Homo sapiens: one gene and its partners. The protein of the gene in region 3 interacts with the protein of the main gene of each other region in a pairwise test. Each region holds a gene or a part of one and is shown on either strand. Other genes may lie near its edges. The genes, in order: RBFOX1, TRIM73 and PSMF1.

Region 1 (3,650 bases), on a different chromosome or scaffold from region 3:
TCAGGATTCCAATCTTCATGATGTGCTGAAGATACAAATTAGAAATAAAATGAGTCATCTGCAGTAACCATTAGGCATGTAACGGTTGCAGATGGTATGGTCGAATTATTAGTGGTTACAGACGTTGTAATGATCACTGCCAAGTTTTAGGCAGTTTGAAGAAGGAGGTTGCTTTTTTGTCTTGTTTTGCTTTTGACTTTGAAATCCCATGCCTATATTTAACAAGAGACAAAGGGGGGGAAAAGCACAAAGATCTTTGTGACTGTTTTTCTCTGTAATTGTCCTCACTGTAAACCCCTGTCAAAGTGGGAAGACAAAGACAGGATAGAGCACCAAAAGGAAAGAAGATGTCTCATGTCCAAATAACGTGAGAAGTACCGAATTGGAGTTAAACTGTAGTTTCTTGCAGTAACTATGACCCAAAAGAGGAAACCCTCCTAAATTCCCTAAGCTCCAGTGCAGGGAGCCAATGAGAATGTTTACAGATGCTTCACAATGTGATTCCTGCCACTAAATGTATCCTATAACAAGAACGGCTCCATGACCACCGGTGTTTGGCAGGAAAGAACAGATTTTTAGTGCATAAAACTGCATTTCTTTAGAATAGTGGTTGTAAACTAAGGAGGCTTGAAAGTCATTGCAAGGGGGTCTATGAATCTGTATGTTCCTGGCACTTTTATAGACAAAATTTACAGAAACAAATAAATCTTGCATACTTTTAAAAAAAGGGACACAGATGCTATTTGTGATGAACAAGGTTGAGTTTGTGCACTAAATGCATGGTGTGTTCTCTTAATTGACAGGTATTAAGTGTATCTATCATCTTGCCAAATTGACATCTTGTCAGTTGCTTGAAAATCTTGACTTTAAAGTGAAGTGGTGAATGCATGTAGTCCCAGCTAGTCAGGAAGCTGAGGCACAAGAATCGCTTGAACCCAGGAGAAAGGTTGCAATGAGCCGAGATCATGCCACTTCACTGCAGTCTGGGTGACAGACTAAGACTTTGTCACAAAAAAAAGGGGGGGGGGGGGTGCTGGATGGGTGCAATAGCTCACATCTTATGCTGTAATCCCAGCACATTGGGAGGCCAAGGCGGGAGGGTTGCTTGAGGCCAGGAATTTGTGAGCAGCCTGGACAACAAATTGAGACCCCATCTCTATTAAAAAAAAATACTTAAAAATTAGCCAAGCATGGTGGCTTGTGCCTGTAGTCCCAGCTACTTGGGAGGCTGAGGTGGGAGGATCCCTTGAGCCCAAGAATTTGCAGTGAGCCGTGATCACACCACTGCACTCTAGCCTGGGTAGCAGAGTGAGAACTTGTCTTTTTAAAAACAAGAGCCCTGAAACTAGTAGATTTGGATCAAGGTCTGATGACCGGTAGTACAATTTTTTGGCAAGATCTTGCTCCTTGCCGTCTACCCTACCTCTGTAAGACTAGAGAGACTCAGGATCCCTTCTCTGATTCCTGTGAATATTTTGAATACCTCTATGACTTAGCATTGTAGCCTGCAGTAACTTTCACGATAACTGAGTGACACCATGAAAGAGTGTCAGGACGGTCATTAAGGGGATCACATTGAAAGCCAACATCACAGTGACACTTGATGAGAAAAAAATAGACTGCATAGCAAGATGTCTTCCTAACCTGACACGGCAAAGAGAATATAACTCCTCTTACCGCCCATCATTCACACCTGGTCTTACTGCCTCACACACACTTAACCTCGACTCTCACTTTGAATGCTCTGCACTTTTCAAAGTCATCTTTGACCTGAAAGTGCCCGAGGGTATCTCTGTTCTGCAGGAGTTGGAAGGCTCAACTCAAGGTTATTACCAAATGAGAGAGATAAAAGTGCAAGAGCTGACCTTTTCCTCTGAAATGTCAGCATTCAAAGCTGGGTATCTTCAATATTAGGATGCTCGCTCTGCTTTTGTGTCAGATGCATACTTGATAAGCATCACGTGTGTATAAGAAGTAAAAGGTGCAAGCTAATCCCCAACACACAGTGCCTTTGAGTAGTGAACAAGAGCCTCCCATTTTATATGGAGACACCACCAACTTGGCTAGGAATGAGGCATTCAAGTTGGGCATCTTCTTGTTCCTTTTGTGATATTTGCATCCATTTATTAACTCTTAGAGGAAGAGTCTCTGAGAAGCCCACCATTGCTCTAAGTCAAATGTTAAGGATGTAGTTCTTTTCATTGAATCCAGAGGCACCTGCTATCATTGCTGGGATGTCATGGGCAAATTGGCTACATCTGCAAACATGAATGATATCCAAGCCCTGTCACAGCTTTGTCCTTTGGTGGAACACTGGTCAAAGAAATGGCAAACTCATGTCTTCCCAAAGTGGATAGTGAAGATATCTTCGAGAAAAAAATAATCAGGGGCAAGATGACCTATAAAAAAAGCAATGCTATTATTTTCTCCTGGGTCAGTGGTGACTTGTGGCCTGCTCTGTGTTTCACCATGGTGCCTGGGCAAGGCTACACTTCATGGCATATAGCACCACAGTAAGTACCTCTGAATCCTTTTCACTGATTTCAGAAGAACGTAGACTTCAGGAATCAACATGGACTTAGAAACTGGTAGCTCATTTGGTGTCGGTGGTGGTGGTTTTGTTTTGTTTGCTAAAATCAGCTTTATGCAGAAGTAGTTGTTCTCTGCTGATGCATCTGAAATCTAAATGCACAGTGCCTGGGAAAGACTAGGCAATGCAGGGATACACTAAGAGTCACCCTCTGGATCATTTGACAACTGTAAAAGAAAGCAAAACCAAGAGGACTCGATGTGTATTTTTGCTGCAGTATGATGTCCTGGGCCATTGGATTTAGGACCATCAATAGGCTTCCTTCAACAGTGGGTCATCTAGGAATTTGTGTTCCATTTGGCCTACAAGTTACTTCTTAGAAGAAAGCCACTTGGTAAAGTAGATACATGGTGAGCATATGTACAGAAATACATGCTAAAACCATAAAGAGATTCTAGCCACAATATACCTGCAGACTAGGCTCTAAATTGTTTCTCCCCATACAAACATCTAACCTTAGTATTGTAAATACCCCAAACTTACATGAGACAGGGAGGTCTCTGGAACCCCCAGAGCGGGCACTGCTGGGAAGAAAGGTGATACTTACACCAAACATTTGTCTGAGGTCCGGATCCCGGAACCTGAAGGGGATATTGGAGACATGCAGCCGCTTGGGCTGAGACTTGTTTTCCGTGTTTTCAGAAGGTTGTGTCTGGGGCTGGCCATCCGTCGGTGCTGCGTCATCTGTCTGCTAAAAGAACAAGAAGAAACCGAAGAGGTTCTCAGTGGACCACAGTGCTCTCTTCCGATGCTCTTTTGCTTGCCATGAGTGGCAGGAAAAGATCAGAACTAAGCAATCTGAGAAGGGAAGAAAATGCTGACGCATGCATGCATGCATTCATTCAGCAAGTGTTTTCTGAGCGTCCACTGGGTGCTCATTATGAATCTGGGATTAGGCAGTGGGAAAAGCAGACAAAAATCCCTGCCCTCAGGGAGCATCATTCTCATGAGGGCAACACAGACAATAAATCCATAGATAGAGTGTTGGCAGACAGAGAAAAGCACTATAGGCTAGAAAAAGCAAAGGAAGGGGACTGGGAGCTGCTGGGGTTGGGAGGTG
Region 2 (4,277 bases), on a different chromosome or scaffold from region 3:
CCCACCTTCAAAGGATCTGCTTCAGGGGGTCTCCAGTGAGACCCAGAACTCTACACTTATAGGTGACACTCCCAGGTAATTCTAGAGAGCCTGGAACCTACAAGGCCTCTACCCTGATCTCCCACCTGCTCCCCTATGAAAGCTTGTCAGTGAGACAGAAGAAGCACCAGAAGCCCCCAGCGAGAGCCCGACATTGGAATACCTAGCTTCTCAGGATCCACTGGGCCTCCCACTATGGCCTCAAGCCAGCATCACTGGCTTTTCTTCTTCCCAGCAGGGAACAGCAGGCACAGAGTCAGAAGTGGGAAGTGCAGCTGGACGCCTGCACCACTGCCTGGTCTCTGCCCCTTCTCTCCTCCCCTTCCCCAGCAACACCCCTGTGTCCCCAAGGTCACCAGAATCAGGTGGAAACTGGGTTACATCACAGGACTGGGGAGGCAGCCTTTGTTGGGCCTGCTCTGATAACATTCAAGTGCTGGCCTTGGCCACTGTGGAGGAGGGGCAGAAACAGAGGGACTGGGTACACCGTCCACACCTCATGACCCCAACAGGAGCAGATAGGTGCTGGGAAACAGTTCTTTCTGAATCTCAATCTCTTGCTCTTATATCCTTTTTTGGGGGGGGTGGGGGGCTGGGGGGCAGGGGAAGACAGTGTCTTGCTCTGTTGCCCAGGCTGGAGTGCAGTGGCGTGGTCACAGCTCACTGCAGCCTCCAACTCCTAGGCTCAAGCCATCCTCCTACCTTAGCTGCCTGAGTAGCTGGGACTACAGGCACATGCCACCATGCCAAGCTAATTTTTAAAATTTTTTTTGTAGATACCGGGTCTTGCTTTGTTGCCCAGGCTGGTCTTCAACTTCTGGGCTCAAGCAATCCTCCCACCTTGGCCTCCCAAAGTGCTGGGATTACAGGCATGAGCCTTATTGCACGCAGTCTTCCTTCTCTCTCTCTTTTTTTCTAATACAAACTGGCAGATGATGGTTCGATCTCTCGAATTTTTTTTTTTATTTTATTGTTTTATTTACTTTAGTAGAGACAGGGGTCTCACTTTGTTGCCTGGGCTGGTTTTGAACTCCTGGCCTCAAGCAATCCTCCTACCTCAGCCTCCCAAAGTGCTGGGATTACAGGTGTGAGCCGCCGAACCTGGCCTCTTTTTTTTTTTTTTTTTAAAGATTTGAAGGTATCTTTATTTACTTATTTAGATTTTTTAAATCGAGGTATAACATATACAAGTGTGCAAATCTTAACCACACAGCTTGATAAACACTTGATGTATATACGTGCACTCTCAAGAGCAAGATGTACAGTGTTTCCAGAAAGCTCCCTCCTGCCTCCTTCCAGTCATAACTCCTAACAAGGACAGCCACTGTCCTTATTACCATGTTGTCATGTGGCCTGTTTTTGAATGTCACATAAACAGCATCATATAGAATGTACCCTTTTGTGTCTGGTTTCTTTCACTCAATAATATTAAATTGTGAGTTTTTTTTTAATGTGAAGTCTTTCAACGTTTAGAAATTCAATGACACTCTGTTATACAGGTTTTGTTTGTTTGTTTGTTTATTGAGACAGAGTTTTGCTCTTGTTGCCCAGGCTGGAGTGCAGTGGTGCAATCAGGCTCACTGCCACCTCCACCTCCCGGATTCAAGTGATTCTCCTGCCTCAGCCTCCCAAGTAGCTGAGGTTACAGGCGCCTGCCACCACACCGGCTAATTTTTTGTATTTTTAGTAGAGAGGCGGTTTCATCATGTGGGCCAGGCTGGTCTCAAACTCCTGACCTCGAGTGATCTACCCACTCTGGTCTCCCAAAGTGCTGGGATTACAGGTGTGAGCCACCGCGCCCAGCCTGTTACACAGTTAATGAATATTATGGTCATAATATACTGCTGTGGTTTGAATGTATCCTCCTAATTTCATGTGTTGGAAACGTAACCCCCAATGGGGCAGTATTGAAAGTTGGCTGTAGCCTACGCCTATAATCCCAGCACTTTGGGAGGTCAAGACTGGAGGATCGCTTGAAGCCAGGAGTTCAAGACCAGCCTAGGCAACAAAGCTACAAACCATCTTACCAGCAAATTAAAAACTAAAAAATAAATTAGCTGGGCCTGGTGGTGCACGTCTGTAATCCCAGCTACTTGGGAGGCCGAGGCAGGAGGATCTCTTGAGCCCAGGAGGTGGCGGCTGCAGTGAGCTGAGATCCATCACTGAACTCCAGCCTGGGCTCAGAGCGAGCCTCTGTCAATCAATCAATCAATCAATCAATCAGTGTCTTGTCTGGGCCTAAATTCTCTAGAATACAATGGAAGAGGGAAAGTGAAAGAAGGTGGAAGTAACCCACAGCTGGGAGCCCTGAACCCTGCTGGTGGCAGGTGGCTCTCGTGTCCTCACCAGGTTGCCCTGCAATCACATGCTGCATCCTTTTTCCTGAACCTGCCCCACGTGCCCCACCACGCAGCCACTCCGAGGGCTCCTTCAAGGGCGGCAGCCCTGTCACTCACGTGTTCCAAAAGTGCTTCCCCTGTGCCCTGACGGCCTCGCCATGTGTCCCATCACGCCCCACGCGCTCCCACTGTGCGCCCCACCTCGCACCCGTGCCCCATCATGCTCTGCGTGCTCGTTAGGTGCCCCATCATTTCCCGCTCGCTCTCATTACGTACCCAGCCTCCGGCCCCTGTAAGTGCCCCATCGTGCTCTCTGTCGCTCCAGTTAGATGCCCCATCCTGCCCCGCGAGCTCCAATTACGTGCCCCACCTAACCCCCCATGTCCGTGCCCCATCATGCCCCGCACGCTCTGGTTACATGCCCCGCCTGGCGCTCCCGCACATGCCCCATCATGCTCAGCGCGCTCCCATTACGTGCCGCCACCTCGCGCCCCTGCAAGTGCCCAATGTGCCCTGTGTGGTCCCGTTACGTGTCCCATCATGTTTTGTGCGCTCCGATTACGGGCCACACCTGGCAACTCACCGTGCGACCTCTGTAGTTCCAGAGCTCGCGAGGGCCAGGGCCGTTGGCGGCGGTTGGAACGAAACGATGAGTGCCTCCTCGTGGCCCCAGAATGTAATGCCGCCGTCGGTAGGGGTCTGCCGGGCATAAAGGGGCCTTCGGAACCCCACCAGAGTCACAGCCAGGAAGGGCAGCGGGGCGCACCAGGCCGAAGGCTCACGCCACAGGGAGGGCAGCTAGGACATGGGGGGAAGCGCGTTAAACCAGGGAGTCCTGGAAGGGGACGACGCCCCCGGCCAGGTGAGGGCCCAGACGTTTCGGGGGCGTAGACGCTGAGGGGTGGCCGGGTGGGTCTGCGGCTCTGAGGCCTGGCTTTCATTCTCCATCAGTCCCTGTACGAGCGGTTAAGTCAGAGGATGCTGGACATCTCGGGGGACCGGGGCGTGCTGAAGGACGTCATCCGAGAAGGAGCTGGAGACCTAGTGGCGCCTGATGCTTCGGTGCTAGGTACGCCCTGGGGCGGTTTGTCCGCAGGATCCATGTCATCGCACTCTGTTGGGAAGAGAGAGGCCTCATTTTCAAAAAGCATTTAATGGGGTTGGAAATGCTTTGTTTGAAGTGGATTTTTGTTTTTGAAACGGGGTCTCGCTCAGTTCCCCAGGCTGGAGTGCAGTGGTGCGAACATAGCTCACTGCAGCCTCTGCTTCCTGGGCTCAAGTGATTCTCCAGCCTCAGCCTCCCAAATAAGAGATTTACAGGCGCAATCCACCATGCCCGGCTAATTTTTAATATTTTTGTAGAGATGGGGCACTTTCTATGTTGCCCAGGCTGGTCTCAGACTCCTGGTCCCAAGTGATCCTCCCACCTCAGCCTCCCCAGTAGCTGGGATTACAAGCGTGAGCCGCTGCTTCTGCCATGAATTAGTTTTTTTAAGAGGAAAGCTAAGGAACCCTATGTCCCCTTTGCGTGATGCTTCCATGAAGCTCTTGAACCTCTGAGCCGAAGGGTAGGCTCCTAAAATGCAGAGAGATTTATTCCTGTACCTCGTGGTGTCGGGCAGCTTAAGCTCATCTGATCGCATTGTTTCTGTGTGATCATGAGAGACTCGATATTATGGTGGCGTGGGTGTTTTGGGTCCATTTTCCTTACATTCTTTCCTCTATTCTAGTGAAATACTATGGATACCTGGAACACTTGGACAGACCCTTCGATTCTAATTACTTTAGGAAAACTCCTCGGCTAATGAAACTTGGAGAGGGTAAATTCAGAGTAGGAGCTGGAGAAGAAGGGATTGTTTAGGAGCGAGATGAGGCACCATGCCTCAGGCTGGGAAGACT
Region 3 (3,650 bases):
AAGGCCTACAATAATCAATACTGATAGAGTAATATTGACAGAGGAAGAGACATAGAGATCAATGGAAAAGAACAAGGGATCCAGAGATAGATCCACAGATGTACAGACAACTGATTTTTGACAAAGTTTCAAAAGTAATTCAATGAAGGAATAACAAATGATGTTGGGGCCATTGGACATCCATGGGTAAAAAATGAGCTGCTTGCCTGCCCAAGCTGGGTGGGAGGGTAAATTCAAGTCTTCTTTCCTTTTAATCAGATCAGAGGGAGGCCTCTGATCTCCCTAGGCATGTGTAAAATTCAGGCCTGATTAAAAAACCACCAGGTCCTGAAGGAGAAGTTCTCACACAATTTCTAAGCCTTGAAAGAACAACTGCCATTTTGGTTGTGGCAAAAGACAGCCTACCATCTCATCCGACACAGAAAGGGTACAGCAGAATGGAACACAATAGGTTTATATTTCTTAGCAAATCACAGTTTGCTCACTGAGGAGCACAAATTGCTGGAAGAGGCAAGACATGCCACAATGACCTAATAAAGAGGGCTACATGGAGGAAGCTATGGCTGAAAGGCATAGGAGGGAGACAGGGCCTCTGATCAGGAGGCAGAGCCATACCTCAGCTTTCACCGCCCATTTCCACGGAGATGACTCCTGGTGATCACATTTTTTTCCCCTTTGTGTATTTTACTAAGAGCTGGACTAAGCGCTAAGCACTCTATGTGCTGACATCTCATTCCATTCTCAGAAAAACCCTGAGGTAGTACTATTGTGTCCCTCATTTCACAGTAATCAAAAAACAAAACAAAACACAACACATATCCCCTCCCTCACACACAAACCCCTCAAACAAATGTACTTAAAAAACAAATAGAGACAGGATCACAATTCTCTTTCAGTATTGCTGAACAGACGGAATGCTCTAATGAGCATGAATGGCCAGTATAATTCCTAGGTTCTTCCACAGGTTTTGTCAATTTCTCTCCCAGTGGAAGTCCAGAGTGAAGAAGTCAAGAGACCACACTCCAAATGTCCCTCCCTTACCCACTAAGAGGGGCCAGGGTGTCAGGGAGTGTGCAACACCCAGAGGCGCGGCATTCTGCCGGCCAGGCCTGGCTCACTTCCCCCTTTCCTCAGAGGCGCAGCATTCTGCCGGCCAGGCCTGGCTCACTTCCCCTTCCCTCCCTTTGTCTATTGCATGCAGAAGACACCCAAACCCTGCCCTCAAGGAGATCACAGGCAAGGAGGGAAGACCAACCCTAAGAAGGTAAATGTAAAATATCTGATGGATTAAATGCTTAAAAAATGATGTTTTGATCCAGGGCAACACAGCAAAGACCTCATCTCTACAAAAAATAAAAAACTGGCTGGGCATGGTGGCACATGCCTGTAGACCCAATTATTTGGGAGGCTCAGGTGGGAGGGTCACTTGAGCCCAGTAGGTTGAGGCTGCTTGGCCTGTTTATAAGTGAGCTGATTGTGCCACTGTACTCCAGCCTGCCTGGGCAACAGAGGGAAACCTGACTCCAAAAAAAACATTTTACTAAAATGTTTTGAAGCTGTAAGCCTGGGGGCCAGAGGAAGCTTCTCTAAGGAACTGACGTTTAAATCGGTAACCAAAAGATAAACAGGAGTTGGCTACGTGAGGTCAGGGAGAGCACTTTAGACAGAGGGAAGAGGTCTGAAGAGGGCAGAAGAATGACACTGTGGCTGAAGCACAGGGATGCGGGGAAGGCAGTACAAGGTGAGATTGAAGGGGTGAATGCTTTAAGGCCTCATCAAGGATTGTGCTCTTTATCCTAACAGCAATGAGTATTCCCTAAAGACTTTTAACTGTGGTAAAATATGCATAAAATTTACCATCTTAACCATTTTTAAGTGTTCAGTACTGTTAAGTACATTAACACTGTTGTGCAATCACCTACCATCCATCTCCAGATCTCTTTTCATTTTGCAAAACAAACTCTGTACCCATTAATCACTAACTCCCCTTCCTATTCCCCTCTTGCCCCAGTATCTGGCAACCACCATCCACTGTCTGTCTCTACAAATTTGACTAATCTAGGTACTTTTAATAGAATCACACAGAATTTGTCCTTTTGTGAATGGCTTATTTAATTTAGTATAATGTCTTCAAGGTTCATCCATGTTGTAGCACGGGCCAGAATTTCCTTCCTTTTTAAAGCCGAATAATATTCTACTGTATTTACATACCAAATTTTGTTCATCCATTCATCTTATCAATGGACAGCCAAGCTGCTTTCACCTTTTGGCTACTGTGAATAATGCTTCTACGAACATGGGTGTACAAATATCTTTTCAAGACCTACTTTCAATTCTTTTGGGTATATGCCCGGAAGTGGACATGCAGGATTATACGGTAATTTTTTGAAGAACTGTCATATTGTTTTCCATAGTGGCTGCACCATTTTACATTCCCAAGAGTGCACAAGAGTTCCAATTTCTCCACATCCTTGACAACGCTTGTTTATTTTCTGGTTATTCTGATACTACCCATCGTAATGGGTGTGAAGCAGCATCACTGAAGGGTTTTAAGCCAGAGTTGTTAACTATGATCTGATCTATGTCTGAAAGACTGGTCCAACTGCTGCGTGGGAAATACACTGGAGGGTGGCATGCAGGAGGGGAATATGTAAAAGACCTCCTCACACAGAAGCTGCATGGAAGAGGGGAGGAGAAATGAGGAGTGGCCAGAATGTGGAGGCCAGTGGTTTGAAAGTCTGTGAGGACTGGAATAGGTTCAAAGAGGGTATTGCTGATTAGATACTATTAAATGCAACAGGGTTTCTGGGCAGTTCTGAGGTTCGGTTAAGGTTTGATAACTGTGCATTTATAGTGATGCCAAGCTCACTCTAAAACTCTGAGGGTGGCTAGGTGCGGTAGCTCACACCTGTAATCCCATCACTTGAGGTCAGGAGTTCGACACCAGCCTGGCCAACAGCAAAACCCTGTCTCTATTAAAAACGCAAAAATTGGCTGGGTGCAGTGGCTCACGCCTGTAATCCCAGCACTTTGGGAGGCCAAGGCAGGTGGATCACGAGGTCAGGAGATCGAGACCATCCTGGCTAACATGGTGAAACCCCATCTCTACTAAAATACAAAAAAAAAAAATTGCCAGGCGTGGTGGTGGGCACCTGTAGTCCCAGCTACTCGGGAGGCTGAGGCAGGAGAATGGCGTGAACCCGGGAGGTAGAGCTTGCAGTGAGCCGAGATCGCGCCACTGCACTCCAGCCTGGGTGACAGAGCAAGACTCCGTCTCAAAAAACAAAACAAAAAAACGCAAAAATTAGCTGGGTGTGGTGGTGCACACCTGTAATCCCAGTTACTCGGGAAGCTGAGGCAGAAGAATTGCTTGAACAGTCACACTGTACTCCAGCCTGGGTGACAGAACTAGACTCCACCTCAAAAAAATAAAATAAAATAAAAAATAAAACCCTGAGGAGGTCAATGAAGATGGGGGGAAAATCCCTATAATGGAATAAAGCAGACATAAATCAGCTTAACTATATATAAAACAGATAATTTCATTATACTGATTTTAAAAACAAGCACTAATCTAAGTACCTTTGGAACACACTACTCTGCCTACATCTTTTGTGGAACATAGTTAAAAGACAAAAAGAACTGGAAAT

The links.
Region 1: the proteins of PSMF1 (region 3) and RBFOX1 interact in a two-hybrid assay, tested with the Homo sapiens proteins (one large-scale study listed by BioGRID and IntAct).
Region 2: the proteins of PSMF1 (region 3) and TRIM73 interact in a two-hybrid assay, tested with the Homo sapiens proteins (one large-scale study listed by BioGRID).

What each region holds. Positions count from the first base shown.
Region 1 is NC_000016.10:7,579,408-7,583,057, reverse strand, and holds part of RBFOX1 (RNA binding protein fox-1 homolog 1), read right to left. Parts: intron 3,282-3,650; coding exon 3,138-3,281; intron 1-3,137. UniProt on the Homo sapiens protein: RNA-binding protein that regulates alternative splicing events by binding to 5'-UGCAUGU-3' elements. Regulates alternative splicing of tissue-specific exons and of differentially spliced exons during erythropoiesis.
Region 2 is NC_000007.14:75,394,188-75,398,464, reverse strand, and holds the start of TRIM73 (tripartite motif-containing protein 73), read right to left. Parts: upstream 2,837-4,277; 5' UTR 2,655-2,836; intron 1-2,654.
Region 3 is NC_000020.11:1,128,521-1,132,170, reverse strand, and holds part of PSMF1 (proteasome inhibitor PI31 subunit), read right to left. Parts: intron 1-3,650. UniProt on the Homo sapiens protein: Plays an important role in control of proteasome function. Inhibits the hydrolysis of protein and peptide substrates by the 20S proteasome. Also inhibits the activation of the proteasome by the proteasome regulatory proteins PA700 and PA28.